6 separate regions of the Homo sapiens genome follow, and all the other regions are reported to be linked to region 1. Evidence: microRNA targets listed by miRTarBase, many of them from high-throughput screens and not tested one by one. Region 1 holds a microRNA gene; each other region holds the end of a gene's coding sequence.
What was found. Region 1 holds the annotated microRNA hsa-miR-4500 (UGAGGUAGUAGUUUCUU, at 1,923-1,939, shown strand). A microRNA usually pairs through its seed, bases 2 to 8, with sites in the 3' UTR of a target mRNA and lowers its output. Matches are read on the target gene's strand: a 7mer-m8 pairs with bases 2 to 8, a 7mer-A1 pairs with bases 2 to 7 and ends in A, and an 8mer does both.

Region 2: the mRNA of AREL1 is a reported target of hsa-miR-4500. Seed matches in the 3' UTR shown: 7mer-A1 at 549-555.
Region 3: the mRNA of PDZD8 is a reported target of hsa-miR-4500. The part of its 3' UTR that is shown has no 7-base or 8-base seed match.
Region 4: the mRNA of CHTOP is a reported target of hsa-miR-4500. Seed matches in the 3' UTR shown: 7mer-m8 at 629-635.
Region 5: the mRNA of CRX is a reported target of hsa-miR-4500. Seed matches in the 3' UTR shown: 7mer-m8 at 1,990-1,996.
Region 6: miRTarBase lists AK4 as a target of hsa-miR-4500. The part of its 3' UTR that is shown has no 7-base or 8-base seed match.

What each region holds. Positions count from the first base shown.
Region 1 is chr13:87,617,505-87,620,609 of GRCh38, reverse strand. It overlaps MIR4500 (microRNA 4500), which reads left to right and starts at 1,870; the gene lies at 1,870-1,945. All of the region lies in intron 1 of LOC124900338 (formin-like protein 5), which reads left to right. The region is part of intron 1 of MIR4500HG (MIR4500 host gene); the gene reads left to right.
Region 2 is chr14:74,661,003-74,664,107 of GRCh38, reverse strand. AREL1 (apoptosis resistant E3 ubiquitin protein ligase 1) reads left to right here. Exons shown (of 20, transcript NM_001039479.2): 19 at 34-209; 20 at 286-2,852. The coding sequence ends at 388. Among named protein-coding and RNA genes, the nearest start is that of LTBP2, 50 kb to the right of the region's middle.
Region 3 is chr10:117,280,637-117,283,741 of GRCh38, forward strand. PDZD8 (PDZ domain containing 8) reads right to left here. Exons shown (of 5, transcript NM_173791.5): 5 at 1-3,105. The coding sequence ends at 2,632. Among named protein-coding and RNA genes, the nearest start is that of SLC18A2-AS1, 40 kb to the left of the region's middle.
Region 4 is chr1:153,644,954-153,648,058 of GRCh38, forward strand. It overlaps CHTOP (chromatin target of PRMT1), which reads left to right. Exons shown (of 6, transcript NM_015607.4): 6 at 111-1,353. The coding sequence ends at 316. Among named protein-coding and RNA genes, the nearest start is that of SNAPIN, 12 kb to the right of the region's middle.
Region 5 is chr19:47,839,377-47,842,481 of GRCh38, reverse strand. CRX (cone-rod homeobox) reads right to left here. Exons shown (of 4, transcript NM_000554.6): 4 at 1-3,105. The coding sequence ends at 2,515. Among named protein-coding and RNA genes, the nearest start is that of TPRX2, 18 kb to the left of the region's middle. RefSeq lists an enhancer at 2,402-2,927.
Region 6 is chr1:65,225,770-65,228,874 of GRCh38, forward strand. It overlaps AK4 (adenylate kinase 4), which reads left to right. Exons shown (of 5, transcript NM_013410.4): 5 at 294-3,105. The coding sequence ends at 408. Among named protein-coding and RNA genes, the nearest start is that of AK4, 79 kb to the left of the region's middle.

The DNA.
Region 1 (3,105 bases):
AGACCTTTTGTGCAGCAATTTTACTAGTAGGAAATTATCCTAAGGAAACAATCACTTACACACACACACACACACACTCACATACACACGCACACTCACATGCACACATCTATACCATAAAATTTTATTATGAAATTATTGTAAGTTTATAAAAATATTTACCAATAGAATAATATTAAGTAACTCATGGATTTTTTATTAAAACTAATTTTGGTATTTTTTAAAGGACTAAAGATATTTTGGTACAGATTTCAGGGAAAATAGGATGCTAGCCCTTGAGAACATGCCGATCTTGCTCCTTGGCTAACTACACCATTCACCTTACTTTGGCTAGGGAGGCATTTGCAGAGCTCTCCTTCTGACATTTTTGTCTAGAGGAGGCGTTGTTGTCTCCCTTACTCTCAGAAGCTTCACGTGTGTTAAGGAAACTTTTTAAGTGTCTTTCCTTTTTGAAATGAGCAAGTGGTAGGTATATAGATACTTTATTATTTTTATCTTATTTATTCAAATATTTTATTTTCCTTCTATTCTATCTTTTTTACGATAGGCATGGACATTCTATTACACATTTGGAAAAATACAGAGTGTAATACACTCTATACCCAAGTCTATATGCAAAAGCTGTTTCTATTTTTCTATATTTGCATCACTAGGTATATGTTCTTTTTAAAGTAAATTATAGATACATTGGTACTTCATTCTAAATACTTCAAGCATATATCTCCAAAAATTAATATTCTCAAATTTTGCTGCAGTGCTATTATTACAGCTAAAATAATTGAGACAAATCACATAATATTACAAAATACCCACAAATTCTATATTTGAGCATATTCAGATATTCTAAAAGTGTATTTATAGCTGATTTGCTCACACCTGGAGTCAATCAAGAATCACACATTGTATTTGGTTGTGTTGGTTCTTAAATCTCTATTAATCTACAATAGACCCAACTATATTTTTCTTTACTTTTATGACATAGAAAGTCTATTGCCAGTGGTTGTCCATTTTCAGATTTGTAATATAGAATTGGTTTGTTTTCATTCTCTGAAGCATATTATATCATTACATTACACAACAACTTCCTGACTTTATTCAATAAGTACATACTGAATTATGAGTGTATGTCAGCCAGAGAACGTATAGCTATGACAGAAAAAAAAAAGAAAGATCTGTCTTTCTTTTTGCTCTAAATATTTTTTTCTCTTTCCTTTAGGATGCAACTGACTCACTTAAAATAGCTGTGTGGATATAGAACTTTTATCAACTACTATTTACTAAATTATATTGGTGTGTTTGTCCTCATCTTAGAATAGCATATCAATAGATGCTATAAAAACATAAGAGGTACGTTTGTAAAACATTGAATTCGGTTCCAAATATCTCAAAATTCTTCCCTAAAGAACACTTTTTGATCGAGATTAAGACATAGGAATCTAAGTTCATCAACCAAAGATGGGTGCCTGACTGCTCATCAACTAATTTTATATGACTCAAAGAATAGGAATTCAGAAGATCTGTGTCCAGCTTTGTCATGGGTAAATAAGGAAGGCACCCATAAATCTTATATAAGTCGTAGGAAGAAGTGTGGTTCTTTGCAGTGAACCATTTCCTGGAAGACACAAGACTGGGGGGATTTTTTAACCTTTGCTGTTTTCCAGGAGTACAGGTTTCTGGTAAAATTCAACATTGTCAGGAGCAGCCAGAGTGATAAGATAACTTATACACAAGACAATCCCTAATAACTTATACACAAGATGATCCCTAATGCAAATGGCGCCTGTGTCTGGAAGAAGCAGTGACACCTTCATAAAACTAAACTTTTGCCTTAATAATATGGTGCTTTCCAGTAGAGGCAATAGCAGAGCCCAGGAGAGAAAGTACTGCCCAGAAGCTAAAGTGTAGATCAAACGCATAATGGCTGAGGTAGTAGTTTCTTGAACTTATTTGTGAGCACATGCAAAAAGTCTCCTGAGTTAAAAACCACAACCACAACAACAACAATGACAACAACAACAACAACAGGGAGGACATTTGCAAAAGTACAGAGTCTCTGCAAGCTTCTGAAAACAAGAGCCAGTAAAAAATGTGATGTAGTAATGTTATTACCACACATGTGAATTCGTTTTTACGTAGTTTTGATGACTTGTGGAAGTTTAGGTTACAGTCACATAGAAAAGTATTTACCCCTTACCTGAAGCACCCTGAGTTTGAGATCAAGAAAAAAAAGATACTAAATGTTTCATCTTGGCATGGCTTGAGGCATAATAGTAAGATAGATATAATAGTATCCATTAATGGCAGAATTCCATCATTTTATAGATATGACTGTCTATGTTATGGTATGTTTTGTAATAAACATGTTTTGTTTTAGAAAAGGAAAATGTCAGAAATATTTGAGATGTCTGAAAGAGTGAAGTTTTCCTAGTGCTGTGAGGAGATTACTAAGAAAAAATGGCATGTACTAATTTTATTTGATTAAAATAAGAACTCAATAATAGACGACAAGCTTCAGGCTAGTTTTAGGAACAATAGTTCTTTCTTTGTCTTTGTTTTGTTTAGTTTTGAAGACAGGGTCTCACTCTGTTGCCCAGGCTACAGTGCAGTGGCACAATCGTGGCTCACTGCAGCCCAGCCTTGGCCTCCTAAGCTCAAGTGATCCTCCCAACACAGCCTCCCATGTTGCTGGGACTACAGGCACACATCACTACTCCTGACTGATTTTTTTTCTTTTTTTAATGTTTGTAAAGACAGGGTTTCACCATTTTGCCCAGGCTGATCTAAAACTCCTGAGCTCAAGTGATCCTTCTGCCTCAGCCTCCTAAAATGGTGGGATTATGAATAAGAGTCACCATGCCCAGATGAGACTTAACTTTCTAAGTAAATTAGACATAATTAACAATCAGTAATATAAACATTTTAAGCCTCCATTTGTAACCAGGTCCTTTCAGCATTTTGACAGAAGTTCTGTATCTTCCACTTCAATACTTAAATTTACTTTTCCTCAGGCACCTGCATTCAACATTAATTTTAAAAAGATCCTGTCAAGTACTACTCTTGAGCTTTTGTTTAATTATTCTTATTACAATACCTCCAGAAACTACC
Region 2 (3,105 bases), not on the chromosome of region 1:
TGTGTGATCCCAGCCTTGTGCTCTCCCTGCCAGGTCATGAGGTGGTTTTGGACTGTGGTTTCCAGTCTGACCCAGGAGGAGTTGGCTCGGCTACTTCAGTTCACAACAGGCTCCTCTCAGCTACCACCTGGAGGCTTTGCCGCCCTCTGTCCCTCATTTCAGATTATTGCCGCTCCGACCCATAGCACGCTGCCTACTGCACACACATGGTAGGTATCTGCCCGCCTGATGCATGCCCAGTGTTTTTGGTGGTATGAGTTAATCACTTCTCCCTTGCCCTTCCAGTTTTAACCAGCTGTGCCTCCCTACATATGACTCCTATGAAGAGGTGCACAGGATGCTGCAGCTGGCCATCAGCGAGGGTTGCGAGGGCTTTGGCATGCTCTGACCACTCTCCTGTCATCCAGTTGGCTCCCATGCTCTCTGGAGCTTCTGGGCGCAAGTTACAGACATCATAACCACTGATCCTAACACACATAACCATCAGCCAGAAGATGCCGCATGCTCCCCTGTGTCTGGAGGATTTTGTCACCTACAAGCCTTGTCTTTACCTCACCTGCTCCCTGCCCATATCTACCACAGGCCACTTTGGCATGGTATGTAAGCTGAGCTCTTCATTCTGTCATGAGAAGAGGACCATGCTGCTATCATTTATTTGGTCCTTTGAAGATCTCAGTAGCTGAGGGAGATGGCACACGGGGCTCAGCCCTGTTGGGAAACTGGTGTGGAGACCCTTAAATCCACACTGTGCTCCAAAACTCCCTCTGCTGATACTCCTTGGAGACACCCTCTTTGGCCCTCACTACTTGACCAGACTGGTACTTGAGTCCTTCTCATGGGTGGGGTGATTGCCTCTTCTCATCAGGAGCCAGGAGAGAGGGGGACAGATAGGAGGTGGCCCATAGGAGCAGTCCCGCTGCACAATGGTAGGCATAGGCCATGGCACTGGACTGCCTCTAAGGACTGCTAAAAAGAATATTTTTTTGTGGTGTCAGAACTGGAAAAAGCACTTTCCCTTCGGGCATTTCTGGAAATGATTATTAATCCACAAAGAAGAACTCTGTAAGCTTTTTCTTGAATTGTAGCCAGTGAGAAAAGCAGATAGACTGAAGAATATGAAGGATAGCTGAGCTGTAGCCTCCAGAGTGGGGCATGCCTAGGCATATGGCTGGCTTGGAGACTACTGATGCTTTTCCCTGAGTTTGTTATTGGCACTGAAGTATGGCCGGCTTGGGCCACTGACTTCCCCATTATGTAGTCTGCTAAAAGCTGGGGATCCTTTAGCATTCTACTGAAGAAAATTTTGTAGCAAAAGATTAGAACAGTAAGAATAGTATGCCAGCAATCCCTGATTCTCTCTCTGCTTGGTGTTCTCTGGCAGCACTAAGACAAAGGAACAGGGACTAGGAGTTTACGTGCTTATCACAGGTCCTTGGCGTCAGGACACTAGGGATGAACATGGAGGTGATATGTTACACAGTAAACACCTGCCAACCCCTGTACTCCCCTTTGCTCCATCAGTTATCAGGAAGGAGAACTAAGGAGGGAGGAAGCTTATTAGGTTCACTGTTGAATGATGATTGAAGAGTACCTGCTGCTGTATCTTGGAAGATGACAACATCCTTTTTCATTACTGTTTGATTGAAAATAATTTCAAGATTCAAAATCTCATTGACTTCCCAAATTTGTGTTTTTAAGAAGGCTTTGCTGCAAGCTACCATTCCCAATGGGGCAGTCAACTCTGAGAATATTACAAGCCATCTTTATTGCCAAAACCAGCAAGTACACAGAGTCCTGAAACAAGGCAGGACTTTGGCAATGCCTTGGCCTCCTGGAAGCATGTCTGAGCCCTCCTGTTCGCAGGGATCATGAGGAACAAGCCCTCCTGAGCTGCTACAGTTCCTGCCTGACCTCAGTCTTTCGCAGTCATCATTTGTCCTTTCTTGGCACATGGGTGCTGACCTCACTCATCCTTGGGGTCCGGGATCCAGCATCAGGGTCTCTATACCCCAGGATCCTCCATGCCACATGGTCACTGCTCTCCTCAGGGACCAGGACAAGGTGCTGCTGCTTGCCCAAATGTTTTCCCATGGGATATGTACCGGAAGGTTTATCACCACCCTGGGAAACATAATGCTGCCCCTTGGGCCCAGAAAGGGGTTTCCAGCTGGGGGCACGTGGACTGGTTCTGCTGTTTTTGGCAGTCGCTTTTCTGAATTCTCCCCTCCGGCAGCCTTCCAGAGACTGATCCTGGAGATTGAGTTGATTGTCTTGGCTAGACCTGTCATTTTAAGCTCTAGTCATAGCACTTTTTCAGAGCATCTTAGGCACCATTGCAACCCAACCAGGGAAGCTGCATCCCTGTGGTGGTCCTTAGGCACCAGTCTTTGTTAAACAAAACCCTTTGGCACTATTGTGGTTTTCTATTCTCTGTCTGAACTCTATTCAAAAGTATCTTTGCTCTCTTGGGCCTTTTCTTTTACTGTTTTGTTTTTTTTTTTTCTAATCCTGCTTTCATACTAGCCAGTGTGGGGAAAAGGTACAATATGTCAAAGAGATGAGAGAGTGTTATTTCTTGGGCAATTTTCTATTAGTGTTTCTTATTTTGGCCAGTTCTTTTATTTATGTCCTTGTGACCCAGGTACTTGGGGGGCCAGCTACCCTTCTGGCCTTTTAGCGTCTTTGAAGGAGACCAGACATGAGTGAATACCTAGGAGAGTGTCAGCATGTTTCTGGAAAATTGGCAGAGACCAAGCCCTGCTGCAGATTCGTCAGGCCAGGTGAAAGGGCCAGGCAGTTGCAGCTGATGATGTAAATATTTTGTACAGTAGATAAATAAATGTTTAAAAGAACTAAGGAGTGAGTGGCTGCTTTAAATGGAGATTCATGGCTTGACTGGAAGGTGGGGAAGGAAAAGATTTGGAAATGATTTTGCATTTCCCCAGGAATTCCTCCTGAAGTGGTCGGCTCGGGGTAGAGTGTACACCTGGAGTCCTGGCCTGTCCCACTCTTGCCCTTTCACCCTTCCCTGATTGCTGTCCATGGTGCCAGGCAGGGCCACTGTCTCAGCCATGGGGAGACGAGGACAAGTGTTTATGCTCAGTT
Region 3 (3,105 bases), not on the chromosome of region 1:
CCCACTTGCACTAAAGTACAACTATGATGTCTCTACTGCCTCTCCCAGTGAAATATAAAAATATTGCACTACATTACAGATATAGTTTACAAATGTCATTAGCAGCATTACTGAGCTTTCTATAATTGTGGTCTACAGAGTTAAATACTTTTAAAACATGAGTAGATTCTTATAAAACCAAAGTTTTGCATTATTTCAACAGCTCTTTCAAATGCATCAGTTTCAGCAACATGCTTGGGTATCATGAAAACTTCCATGGTTTAATCAATAAACACCAGCTACTTACAAGTAGTCCACCTTCCAGGTTATCAATGGTAAGTTATTTTTTATAAAGTGGTTACACACTGAGCAGATTGCCTCAAGTGTAAGTTATGGAACAATACTTTAGCTTTCAGGGAATTTGGTGTGTAAATTCTTCTATAGCAGTGTTCTTTTAAAATAAGATCACGTGGCCGGGCGTGGTGGCTCACGCCTGTAATCCCAGCACTTTGGGAGGCCGAGGCAGGTGGATCACGAGGTCAGGAGATCGAGACCATCCTGGCTAACATGGTGAAACCCCGTCTCTACTAAAAATACAAAAAATTAGCCGCGCCTGTACTCCCAGCTACTCCGGAGGCTGAGGCAGGAGAATGGCGTGAACCTGGGAGGCGGAGCTTGCAGTGAGCCGAGATCATGCCACTGCACTCCAGCCTGGGAGACAGCGAGACTCTGTCTCAAAAAAAAAAAAAAAAAAAAAAAAAAAAAAAAAAAAAAAAGACATCACGCTTAAATAAGTAATGAAGTATACTGAGATGTTTTTGTTATAAACTTGGCTAAGAAAGGTATTTAGTACCTGAAATTTTCGCTTACTAAAGTAACAAAAGGCATGAGACTTGGCTATTGATTTTTAAAGTGGAATAACTTTTCTCCCCTCAAAAATGTCTTTCTTACTCATATAAATAATGCCTTTTACTTGTATATCTTTTTACTGTTCAAAGCACTTTTGCAGTTATGCTATTGTTTCCCTCACAACAATACTGTGAGGGAGGTAAAGTATTATTATTCCCATTTTAGAGATGGGTCCTTTTGTAACTGCCTATGCTTACACAGTTCATTAATGGAAGGGCTTGAACTTAAACTCTTTTATGGAGTCCTGGAGTCTAGACCTGGGCCCCAGTCCTTAATATTACACCATGCTTTTTCCTGCCAGCAATAAAAGCTGCTCCATCTAGTTTTAAACTCATGTCAGTTTCACTATATAGCAATCATCATAGCAGTTACCTACAAAGGGACAAACATATACTTGTCTATTTTATAGGTATATAACAGACCGAAACCATTAAGGTACCCCAACAACAGTCGAGCTTACTTGTTTTCCCTCAGTCAAATGTTACTGGGACCCGTAAAATGGACCCAGTGTGAGTATATCTTCATTTTCAGAGAACTGGTCCCAATTCCTATGTATGAATACTATTTTTGTCATTCTTTTCTTAATGAATACTCACTACAGAAGTATTCAGAATGATCACCATTCCTTTACAACTGTAAGACGCCAAAGCAAAAAGTATATTTTGCATGATTCCTTTCCTTCACAGAATACTCCTACATGAAAATGTTTTTTCTAAAACAAAACCAGCCCAAACTAGTTATCAACACAGTCATTTTAAAAAGAGTCCTCCAAAACTTTAAATACCCTTTCACATGCTTTATTTCCTATGGGAGAACTGATGAGGAAAATTATCATAAATGTTTAAACTTTTAATTATAAAATTTAAATTTCCATTTAAAAGGAAAGCATCAATATTTTAAAAGATTATATTTCAAAATGCTATGTTACTGTTTTTCAGTAATTAAGTCTTGTTATCCTCTCTACAAAATTCTTGACCAACTGCAATCTACATTTATTTCCTATTACATTGTCTTTCAATGTAAGCTCTTCAAATTAATCACCATATTTTTACCATACAGCTGCACAAAAGCTTTAGAAAAAAATTTCACAGAAGCATCGAAAGCAAGCAATATATGTAAAAAATTTTTTTTTACTAAATCAGCATAACAGACTAAAGCTGCAGCATCTGCTTTCATGTTACATTTGGCAAAAACAAAACAAAAAGCACCCCCAAACCCCCAAAATAACAAAAATCTCAAGCAAGTAGAGACGATAAACTTCATAACACAAAAGAAAGATTCAAAACCTGTTCCCTCAGTGATTGCTGTTGTCAGTTTGGGCATGCAGCAAATTTGTTATAACCATGATGGAAATGAAAATATTTTAAGAATCTAGACAGTATTCTATTTAACACTAATTCAAAAACCAAGAGGAAGAAAAATAACACAAGGGGACACCATACATACATAAACATGAAAAGCTAGCTTACATAATTACATAATTAGAAAAGTTAAATAATTTAGTAAAAATAAATTCCCAGTATAAACCCAAAAAAGCATAGCTATAAATGCAATCCAAAACAACCAATTAGTAAGCTGGTCATGTTTTTACTGGAAAACAACCTTTCTCATTTTTGTTCTTACACAAGCAAGTAACTGGAGAAGCAGGCCAGAGTGCATACGAGGATTTAAACATGGTTGTATCTGTGGTACTTTAGATGCAACTTTACCCTGTTCATTTGAAAGCTTAAATAGACCTGTCTGCTACACAGACTCGGATGGGCCAAATAAGTCATCTGATATGCTGCTGAATGGCTGAGAGTCTATTAGTTGGCTTATTTCATTATCAAGGTCTTCTTCTGTATCATCTGTGTACTTGCTTATTTTTTTGGAGTGCTGGTCTAAAGACAGACTTTCTAAAGTTTCTATATCTTCAATGCCTGCTCTGTAGTGAATCATAAGAAGTGTTAGAGCTTGTAGCCTTTCACCTGATTTAGCTAAGGCAGCAGAAAGAAGTGATTTTTTCCTTGTATCAGTTGTCTCTTTTTCTTCTCTAACAAGGGAATTATTGTGTTCCAACTCCTGATCAATTTCATTCTGTAGCTTATCCAACATGAACTCTAGTTTCTGGATCCTTTCCTCTGTAGGCAAGCCCCTGTACAGATCACGACCAATTTCTTTAACTGCAATGAAAACACTGTCATCCAGACCACCCTCTTTTCTCACTAACTTTATTCC
Region 4 (3,105 bases), not on the chromosome of region 1:
CCTTCAGCTTTTCTCAGCTAGGCCCCACTGCTCTAAGGGGCATTTACTACAGCACCTATTAAACTTACTTGTAACTGTCTCTTTTTTTTTTTTTTTCCCCTTTGGGCCAGGTCGGGGTATGATAGGTCGGGGAAGAGGGGGCTTTGGAGGCCGAGGCCGAGGCCGTGGACGAGGGAGAGGTGCCCTTGCTCGCCCTGTATTGACCAAGGAGCAGCTGGACAACCAATTGGATGCATATATGTCGAAAACAAAAGGACACCTGGATGCTGAGTTGGATGCCTACATGGCGCAGACAGATCCCGAAACCAATGATTGAAGCCTGCCCATCCTCCCATGAGAGACTCTTGTTAGTCAACACATCTGTAAATAACCTTGAGATAACAGATGAGAAGAAATCTGATTGATGCTGGATGGACCTATCACAATAGGCTGTGGACTTACTTGCCACCAGCTTGTGCATTTAGTGTGTTCCTTTTACTTTTTGATACTGTGTTGTATGAAACCCTTTTGTCCTTTGATTTGGTTTTTTGTTTTTGTTTTTTTAGGGGGGAGGGGGGGTTTCCCCTCCTTTGCCCAGACTTCTCTTTGAACACAAATGCATTAGCCTTGTGGCTAGAACACCCTCTTCCTACCTCTGTCTCCCCTCACTTGTCATATGCTCTGACATGCTAACATTTCTTTTGTTCATCCCTGTTGCCCCCACAGAAACATCCCAGAAAAACCGGTCAGTGTTCCTTCCTCCCTGATCCTTAGGTTTCTGAAATAGGGTTCTGTTACATCCTCTTCGATAGCCTGTTTAAAATGTTTAGAAGGTCTGGAGCTCAAAAATGCGTTCTTCCACATTGATAATTTAGTAAACTGAGAACATTGACATCACTACAGGGCAGCATAAGAGGTTGCTTACATGTGGTAGCAGCTCTGGTTTGATTCAAGTTGCTACCATGTACATTGACAGCACATATACCATAACCAGCGTGTTGGGTTGAATTGCACTTTCTACCTTTGTATGAGATTTACAGACTTTCCTTCTGGGTTTGTATCATGACCAGAGGGGTACTATAGGGTTGGTTTATACTGCAATATAGAGGATCAGAAGCCATTTGATTTGGTAGGTGTGTCAGAAGGGAGAATGATGGCAGACGAACTGCTGGAAGAGGTCAGAAGATAGCCATGCTAAAATGCAATTATATCCTCATGTTTATCCCAAACTAATCTTGGACTTTTCCACTCATTAGCTTTGTTTTGCCCTTGTTTCCCTTGAAGGTTTAAGTTCAACCATATTCTGTCAACTGTTCAGTTTCAGTGGAATCTTGTATTTCTGGTTCATTATAACAAACTGTTCGCTTAAATCCACCCAGGACTCTCTTTATTTGAGGTGCCTCAAAATGCCATGGCTACTTTAATGATGTTTTTTTTTTTTTTTCTTGTGACCGAGTCTCGCTCCTGTCACCAGGCTGGAGTGCAGTGGCGCGATCTTGGCTCTGCAACCTCCAACTCTCTGGTTCAAGCGATTCTCCTGCCTCAGCCTCCCGGGTGGCTGTGACTACAGACATGTGCCACCACACCCAGCTAATTTTTGTATTTTTAGTAGAGATGGGGTTTCACCATGTTGGCCAGGATGGTCTTGATCTCTTGACTTGGTGATCCACCCGCTTCAGCCTCCCAAAATGCAGGGATTACAGGCGTGACCCACTTTCAGCCTCCCAAAGTGCAGGGATTACAGGCGTGACCCACTGCACCCAGCCACTTTAATGATGTCTTGATATACCCCTTGTATGGTTGAGAGTTTCTTTCTTCTTACTTGTGTTAAAATTCTGGAGAGCCTGTGGCTTTGAGCAGAAAGTGAAGAATTTGACTTCCTCTGAGCTCTGCAGAAATAACACCACGCCCACAAAAACTCAAGGAAGATTGTCTTGGGCAACATTCTGGGCCCTTGGGCCCTGGCACATATTTCCCTTTTTCCCTATGTTGAGAGCTGAAGAGAAAAGAACCTAGTAGCGCCCAGCCAAGCCAGTTGTCATTGGGCTGCCTTTCACCCTAAACTGCCAGGAGGTTGTACTTACTGGGGGCTGGGAAGGAAATTTTGGTCAGGACAACCCAAACTTGAATCCTGTGATGTGGGGTGTCTGTAGGTCCCAAGGGAGATGGGCAGTGGGGGTCTAGCAGAAGGCTACAGGTTGGACGGTGACTGCAGAACTGAATCCCCAGTTCAGCTCCTTCTGCCTTTTCCAGTGCTAAAGCATGAGGACTTCCCCTCCCAGCCAACCTCCCCAACAACCCAAACAAGTGCAAAATGCCAGGCTCCCTCCTACCCCAGAGGAGACTGATGCTTAAGAGTTCTCTATAAAGGAGGTGACTGCCGTAGCCTAGGCTTCCTTCCTTCTACCTCCATGTCCTTCCTACTTCATTGAAAGAATTTATCCCCAAATCGCTTATGTGGGGCACAGGGAACTCTCCTATCAGCCAAGGGTCCTCCAGCCCCACCTACTGCTCACTACAGTTCCCAGGGTCTCCTGAGGCCTGTGTCCCTGTCATCCTCAGTCACTGGTCGTGTGGGACAAGGTGAGTAAACCTGACCTCCTCTGGGTCAGCCTTTCATTCAGCTGCCATGTGCTGAGGGCTTGCCATACCAACACAAGGCATCCTTTGTAAGGGTAACATTAGGAGCATAGGGAAGAGGTTGATGAGCTGGATCTTTTAAGACAAGGGAAAGTAGAGAAAATACACCAAGCAGAGGGAACCAAGTGTAAAGGTACAGTGCTAAAAGAACACCTGAGGCTGGGCACAGTGGCTTACGCCTGTAATCCCAGCACTTTGGGAGGCCGAGGCGGGTAGATCACCTGAGGTCGGGAGTTTGAGACCAGCCTGACCAACATGGAGAAACCCCGTATCTACTAAAAATATGAAATAAGCTGGGCGTGGTGGCACATGCCTGTAATCCCAGCTACTCGGGAGGCTGAGACAGAAGAATCACTTGAACCCGGGAGGCGGAGGTTGCAGTGAGCCGAGATGGCGCCATTGCACTCCAGCCTGGGCAACAAGAGTGAAACTCCATCTCGAAAAAAAAAAGGTGGTCCTGCTGCTATGAATAGATAGCTCCATGGA
Region 5 (3,105 bases), not on the chromosome of region 1:
GCCTCCCGAGTAGCTGGGATTACAGGCGCGTGCCACCATGCCCGGCTAATTTTTGTATTATTAGTAGAGACAGGGTTTCACCATGTTGGCCAGGCTGGTCTCGAACTCCTGACCTCAGGTGATCCACCCGCCTCGGCCTCCCAAAGTGCTGGGATTACAGGCGTGAGCCACCGCACCCGGCCCACTCCTGGGCTTAATGTCCCAGAACCCAGCATGACTCAGGCCTATGAGAGATGAACACGTTTTATGTTGAATAAAAACCTCTTTGTGGGCTCTAGAGATCAGGGTGTACCCCTCAGGGGGTCTAGGCTGTGTGCACCTCTTCTGGTCTAGTGCTGGAAACGTCATCTGATACCTCCCGGCCTCTCTTCACATCTCGCCTTTCTCCTGACCCTGGCTGCTGCTGACGGTGTGTACCAACTCGTAAGCATATATTGTGCCCTATCTCTTCCCAACTCTTAGTTCAGTGACCTCCGGTTGCTAGCTTGAAGTCAGCCGTGGTGGGAGTATTTACACCACGGAAACTGACAAACACTCCACAACCAACCTTTTCCTCTTCCTTGGAGAGCCCATTGTTAGACCTCTGCCAGCACACCACTGTCTTCCTGCCCTACTTTTTTTTTTACACCTTGCCTTGTGAACTCCACCAATGAAGGGCTCTTGGAACCCGCCTCCCCACCCAAAAATGAAAGGAGAACTCGGACTGAGAAGGCAGGGACCCAGCACCCAACTTCTGAGCATCAAATGACCTCAATCCGTCTTCAGGTTCTCACAAGTGCTTGCCAGTGTCACCATAAGTAAGATTCTATTTCAAGAAATAATGGTGCCACCCCAGGAAAATGTCCTCAAGCCAAGCTCTATTTTCCAATCCCACCATCAAAACTGAAAACCAAAAAAAAAAAAAAAAAAATCTAAAAAAGGGAATGTATGTTTGAAATGTAGGGCTGCCTCCTCCAAATCTATTTCCCCCTCTTCCTATCTCTTGTTTATTTACAGATGGGAGTCTGTCTAGCTGCTGCTTCTCTGTGAAATAGCCACAACTATAGGTGGTACGTCCCAAGCAGCTACCCCAGTTCCACCAGTGTCTCACCTTTAGAAAATCCTAAAACAAAAGAAAAAAGGAGTAGAGATGGAACAGGCAAGGTGCCTTTCATTTCCCTACCAAATACACACATTCCCAATGTGCTAATGAGCGAATGAGTGATAAAATGTCTTTAAAAAGAAACTAAGAAGAAAAAGTACATATATGTATAGCTACATATATGAATGTAGATCTTTGTCTCTCAAACGGTCCCCTAAACCTACCATGTAAGCCTGACATTTGTGAAGTCTGTGAAATTCCCAGATAATTTATTTTTAATGTAACCACATCATTGGCCTAAGGTTTCCCGACGGGGCTTCTTAAAGTCTGTCTTTGGAATTTCTAGAAAGGTCCCTAACCATATGCTAAAGAAGTGTCCACGTGTAGGGCCAGGCACAATGGCTCATGCCTGTAATCCCAGCACTTTGGGAGGCCGAGGCAGGCGGATCACTTGAGGTCAGGGGTTCCAGACCAGCCTGGCCAACATGGTAAAACCCTGTCTCTACTAATAATAGAAAAATTAGCCGGGCATGATGGAGCACACCTGTAATCCCAGCTAATTGGGAGATTGAGGCAGGAGCAACGCTTCAACCCGGGAGGTGGAGGTTGCAGTCAGTGAGCTGAGATCACACCACTGCACTCCAGCCTAAGCAAAAGAGTGAGACTCCGTCTCAATTAAAAAAAAAAAAAAAAAAAAGGGCCGGGCGCGGTGGCTCACGCCTGTAATCCTAGCACTTTGGGAGGCCGAGGCGGGCGGATCACGAGGTCAGGAGATCGAGACCATCCTGGCTAACACGGTGAAACCCCGTCTCTACTAAAAATACAAAAAAAATTAGCCGGGCCTGGTGGTGGGCATCTGTAGTCCCAGCTACTCGGGAGGCTGAGGCAGGAGAATGGCGTGAACCCGGGAGGTAGAGCTTGCAGTGAGCTGAGATCGTGCCACTGCACTCCAGCCTGGGCGACAGAGCTAGACTGTGTCTGCAAAACAAAAACAAAACAAAAAAAAAAATTCTGTCCACGTGGAAAGTTAAGTTATCAAGCCCCCCTACCTGCTTGTTCAAGGGCACGGTGATTCTGACCTAAACATGACCCCAAATCAACTGCAAGTTTGGTTTGACTTCTTCTTGGAGCAAGTTCTCAGCACCACTTTCTGAAGCCTGGAGCTCGTGGTGTACTTCAGCGGTCACAATCGTGCCAGACGGTGTTAGGGTTGAGAGAATCACTAGGACCTGTGAGCTGTCCCAGGAGAGGGAGGAGCCTCTCCCTGTGGAGGAAAGGGGTGGTCTCTGTAAGCTGAACACCGAGCTGTCAGAAGGACAGCTGGTTCGGGTTGCTTTCTCAGGAATGCCATCCCGGGATCTAAACTGCAGGGAAGCAGATTCAGAAGAGAAAGGGTCCCGAGGCCCGATGGAGAGAGATGGAGACTGCGTCCTCTACAAGATCTGAAACTTCCAGGCACTCTGATCCTTGTAGTCCAGAGGGTCCATGGGATTGTAGGTGAATTTCCAGGTGCCCGTGGGGTCCTTGAATTCCAAGCTATCCACGGGGCTGTAGGCGCCATAGCTCTGGCCTGATAGGGAGGTGGGGGACTGGGCCAGGGAAGGTCCCACGGAGGGGCCAGAGAGGGGGCTAAGAGCCGGGCCCCCTAGCTGGGGCACCATGGGAGAAAGGTAGGGGTCTAGGCCGCTGAAATAGGAGCTCGGAGACCCATAGGCGGAGGGGGAAGAGCAGAAAGCGGAGGCCGGGGCGTAGGTCATGGCATAGGGGGCGGAGGTCAGAGACGGCCCTGAGGCCACCAGCCCAGCCCGCTGCGCCTCAGGCAAAGGGGACTCTGAGGCTGGGCTCCAGATGGACACAGTGGCCACTGCCGTGGTTGGGGAGCCTGAGGGGCCGGGCAGAGGGGGACTGTAGGAATCTGAGATGCCCAGAGGGTCTGGACACACATCTGTGGAGGGTCTTGGGGACGTGCCCGCCTTCCTCTTGGCAGGCCGGGCCTTGGCCTGGCCCCCTGGGGGCTGCTGCTG
Region 6 (3,105 bases), not on the chromosome of region 1:
ATTATATATTGGGGCACATTTGGAATGGCCCCTATAATGCTATTCTTTGATATGTTTTAAAGGGGGAGAAAAAAGGTGGCATCATGACAAGCATACCAGAATTGCAAAAGCTATGACCTTATTTATGTACACCCAGTGGAGGTGTTGATACCTTTGAAAGGGGCTGTTTTAGCACTTAGTGTGGTATATGATATAGACCATGAGATCATGCTTGTTTTATATCTAGGATCTTCTGCACTAATACGTGGAAAAGAAACCTAAAAAGCCATTGTATGTTGGGCTTTGTTTTTCAGGAGCCGAGGAGTGCTCCACCAATTTTCCGGAACGGAGACGAACAAAATCTGGCCCTACGTTTACACACTTTTCTCAAACAAGATCACACCTATTCAGTCCAAAGAAGCATATTGACCCTGCCCAATGGAAGAACCAGGAAGATGTGGTCATTCATTCAATAGTGTGTGTAGTATTGGTGCTGTGTCCAAATTAGAAGCTAGCTGAGGTAGCTTGCAGCATCTTTTCTAGTTGAAATGGTGAACTGATAGGAAAACAAATGAGTAGAAAGAGTTCATGAAGAGGCCCTCCTCTGCCTTTCAAAAGGCTGGTCACCTACACATGTTTAAGGTGTCTCTGCACATGTCTCAAGCCCATCACAAGAAAGCAAGTACAGTGTGGATTTCAAATGGTGTGTAACTTCAGCTCCAGCTGGTTTTTGACAGCTGTTGCTGTGGTAATATTTTTGACATGTGATGGTGATAGTCTCTGGTTCTCCCCATCCCCACAAAGGCTGTTGAACCACAGCACCAGGAAGCCTGAGAATGAATCCTGAGGGCTCTAGCCCAGGCTTTGTCCCAGGCTTTCTGGTGTGTGCCCTCCTGGTAACAGTGAAATTGAAGCTACTTACTCATAGTGGTTGTTTCTCTGGTCTTGAGTGACTGTGTCCACAGTTCATTTTTTTCCGGTAGGAATAACTCCTTTTCTACATCCACGCTCCATAGAGTCTCTCCTTTTCAGACATCCTGGGATGAAAGAATTTGGCTTTTTTTTTTCTTTTTTTTTTTGGACATCTGTTTTCACTCTTAGGCTTTTAAACAATAGTTATTGCTTTTATCCCTCTCAGATTCTAATAACTGAGAGCGATGGGGCTATATTGAATCTCTGTATGCACTGAGAACTGAGCTATGAAGAGGATCTTATTAAACTGCTGGTCTGACTTTATGGATTGACACTGTTCCTTTCTTTTATTGTGAAAAAAAAAAAAAACCCTGAAAGTCTTGGGAACCCCCTAAAGTCTTTTGGGAATCCTCAAAAAGCATGGGAAGTTAAGTATTTAGCTACATAAATGTTGTAAGATCATATCTTATGTATAGAAGTAATAAGACCATTTGGAATTACTGGACTAATTGAATAGTTAAGGTTTCTATTCGGGACAATAAAATGTATTTTGAAAGTGCTGCTAACTATTGATGCTGACAGTGTTTCACTCCTATGAGTGACCCAAACATATTATAAATATGTGGTAAAGGGAATGGAGCCTGTGGGGTTGAGCAGAATGTTGTACTAGCTGTGCCTGGACTGAGTATAACAGCTTTATGATTATGAGAAAACAAATTCTTTATTTTTTTTTTCTGTTCCAAAGATTCATCCTATGGGGTGGCCATAAAGTCTAGAATTAGATACTAATATTTTGTCATTCATTATAACATATCAATAAACCATTTGTTAAAAGATTTGCCTGGTTTCCAGACTTGGTGGCCACCTTGAATAATTCTTGCTGTCTTCTGGGAAGGATGATGAAATTTATTCCTGCTGCCTTAAAAATATGTATCCCTTCTTCACCCATCATGACTGTCCCCAGTGAGTGTCCTTTACTATTCTTGGGAGTGACTCCTGTCTAACTTTTCATACTGGCGAGAAGAAAAGAAGCCTATTTTAACACTTTAGTGGTGTTGAAACACATTACTTACTTTCTGAAGATGTCCCAGTGAATCCTCTGTCAATTCACTGCCATATGTAATCTATATGATAAGGAATGCATCTTCCTTCTAAGTACTGCCCAAACTCTTGCCAGCTCCTCTCCCATTGTCCCTTCATGTGAATATTTCTTGGCTACCTTAGTGGAAATATAGATCAGTTTTCTCCCCATCCATCCTCTCAAACATAATGAGATTGTTTACTTTTTAGATTTATGCAGTGAAAATGCCCAGTCAGGTCTGAATCGTCAGTGCATTATATTGACTCTGAGCACTTTAGAATTTAGAGTTGCAATTGAATGCCAGCTGTGGAGATGGGGTGCATATCAGATATATAAATAAAGCTCAGGTTTGCTAGGGAACCAGGTATAGAGAAAAATAAGTCTGATATGAGGAAAATTGCACAATTTAGAGTAGTTATGCCGTAGAGAAAATTTCCACAAACTAGGAAATGTAGAGAGTTATTCTATAGAATACTCAAAAGAGGAAAGTATGTGATTTTTGGAAACAGGAAAATCTTCAAACTTCTTTCTTCACTTCCCTTTGTGTTTAGCTGACCCTCCAATGTGATCATTGCCTTTGGAGTTTGGGAGAGGTACGGGAAGTGGCCTGATCCCTGCTTCCATACTTCACTCCTCCATCCATCCTTCCCTCCCTCTTCCCCTCCAGCTAAATGGACAATTCTAGCCAACATTGAGTCACTCAATAAGTCTCAACAGTGGGTGTGTTTGCTGAGATTGTCCAGCGGTTGAGCAGTTTGGTCTCACCTCCCTCGCTAGTTGAGACCAAAAAGAGACAAATAACTTTTTCATGGTCTTTGAAACATAATGCTTATTTCGTGGTCAATGGCTTTAAAAAAATCTGTTTCTTGTTTTCTTCAACAAACTCACTAGTTTTCCCTTAAATGATATTGTAAAAATTAAAGTAATCTTGAAAATGTTTTGACAAAAGTAAAATTAAAGGGACATCTTTTCTTGTTTTGTTTTTTTTTTTTCTATTGCCACACATGACCGTTCCTTCACCTTTAAGCAAAGAGAGTGGTTCAGATGGTTTCTAAGATGCCAACCTGACCTCGCATTCTGTCATTCTACCCAGCTCTTAATTCAATTTGCTTCCATTATCCTAACAGGCTTCT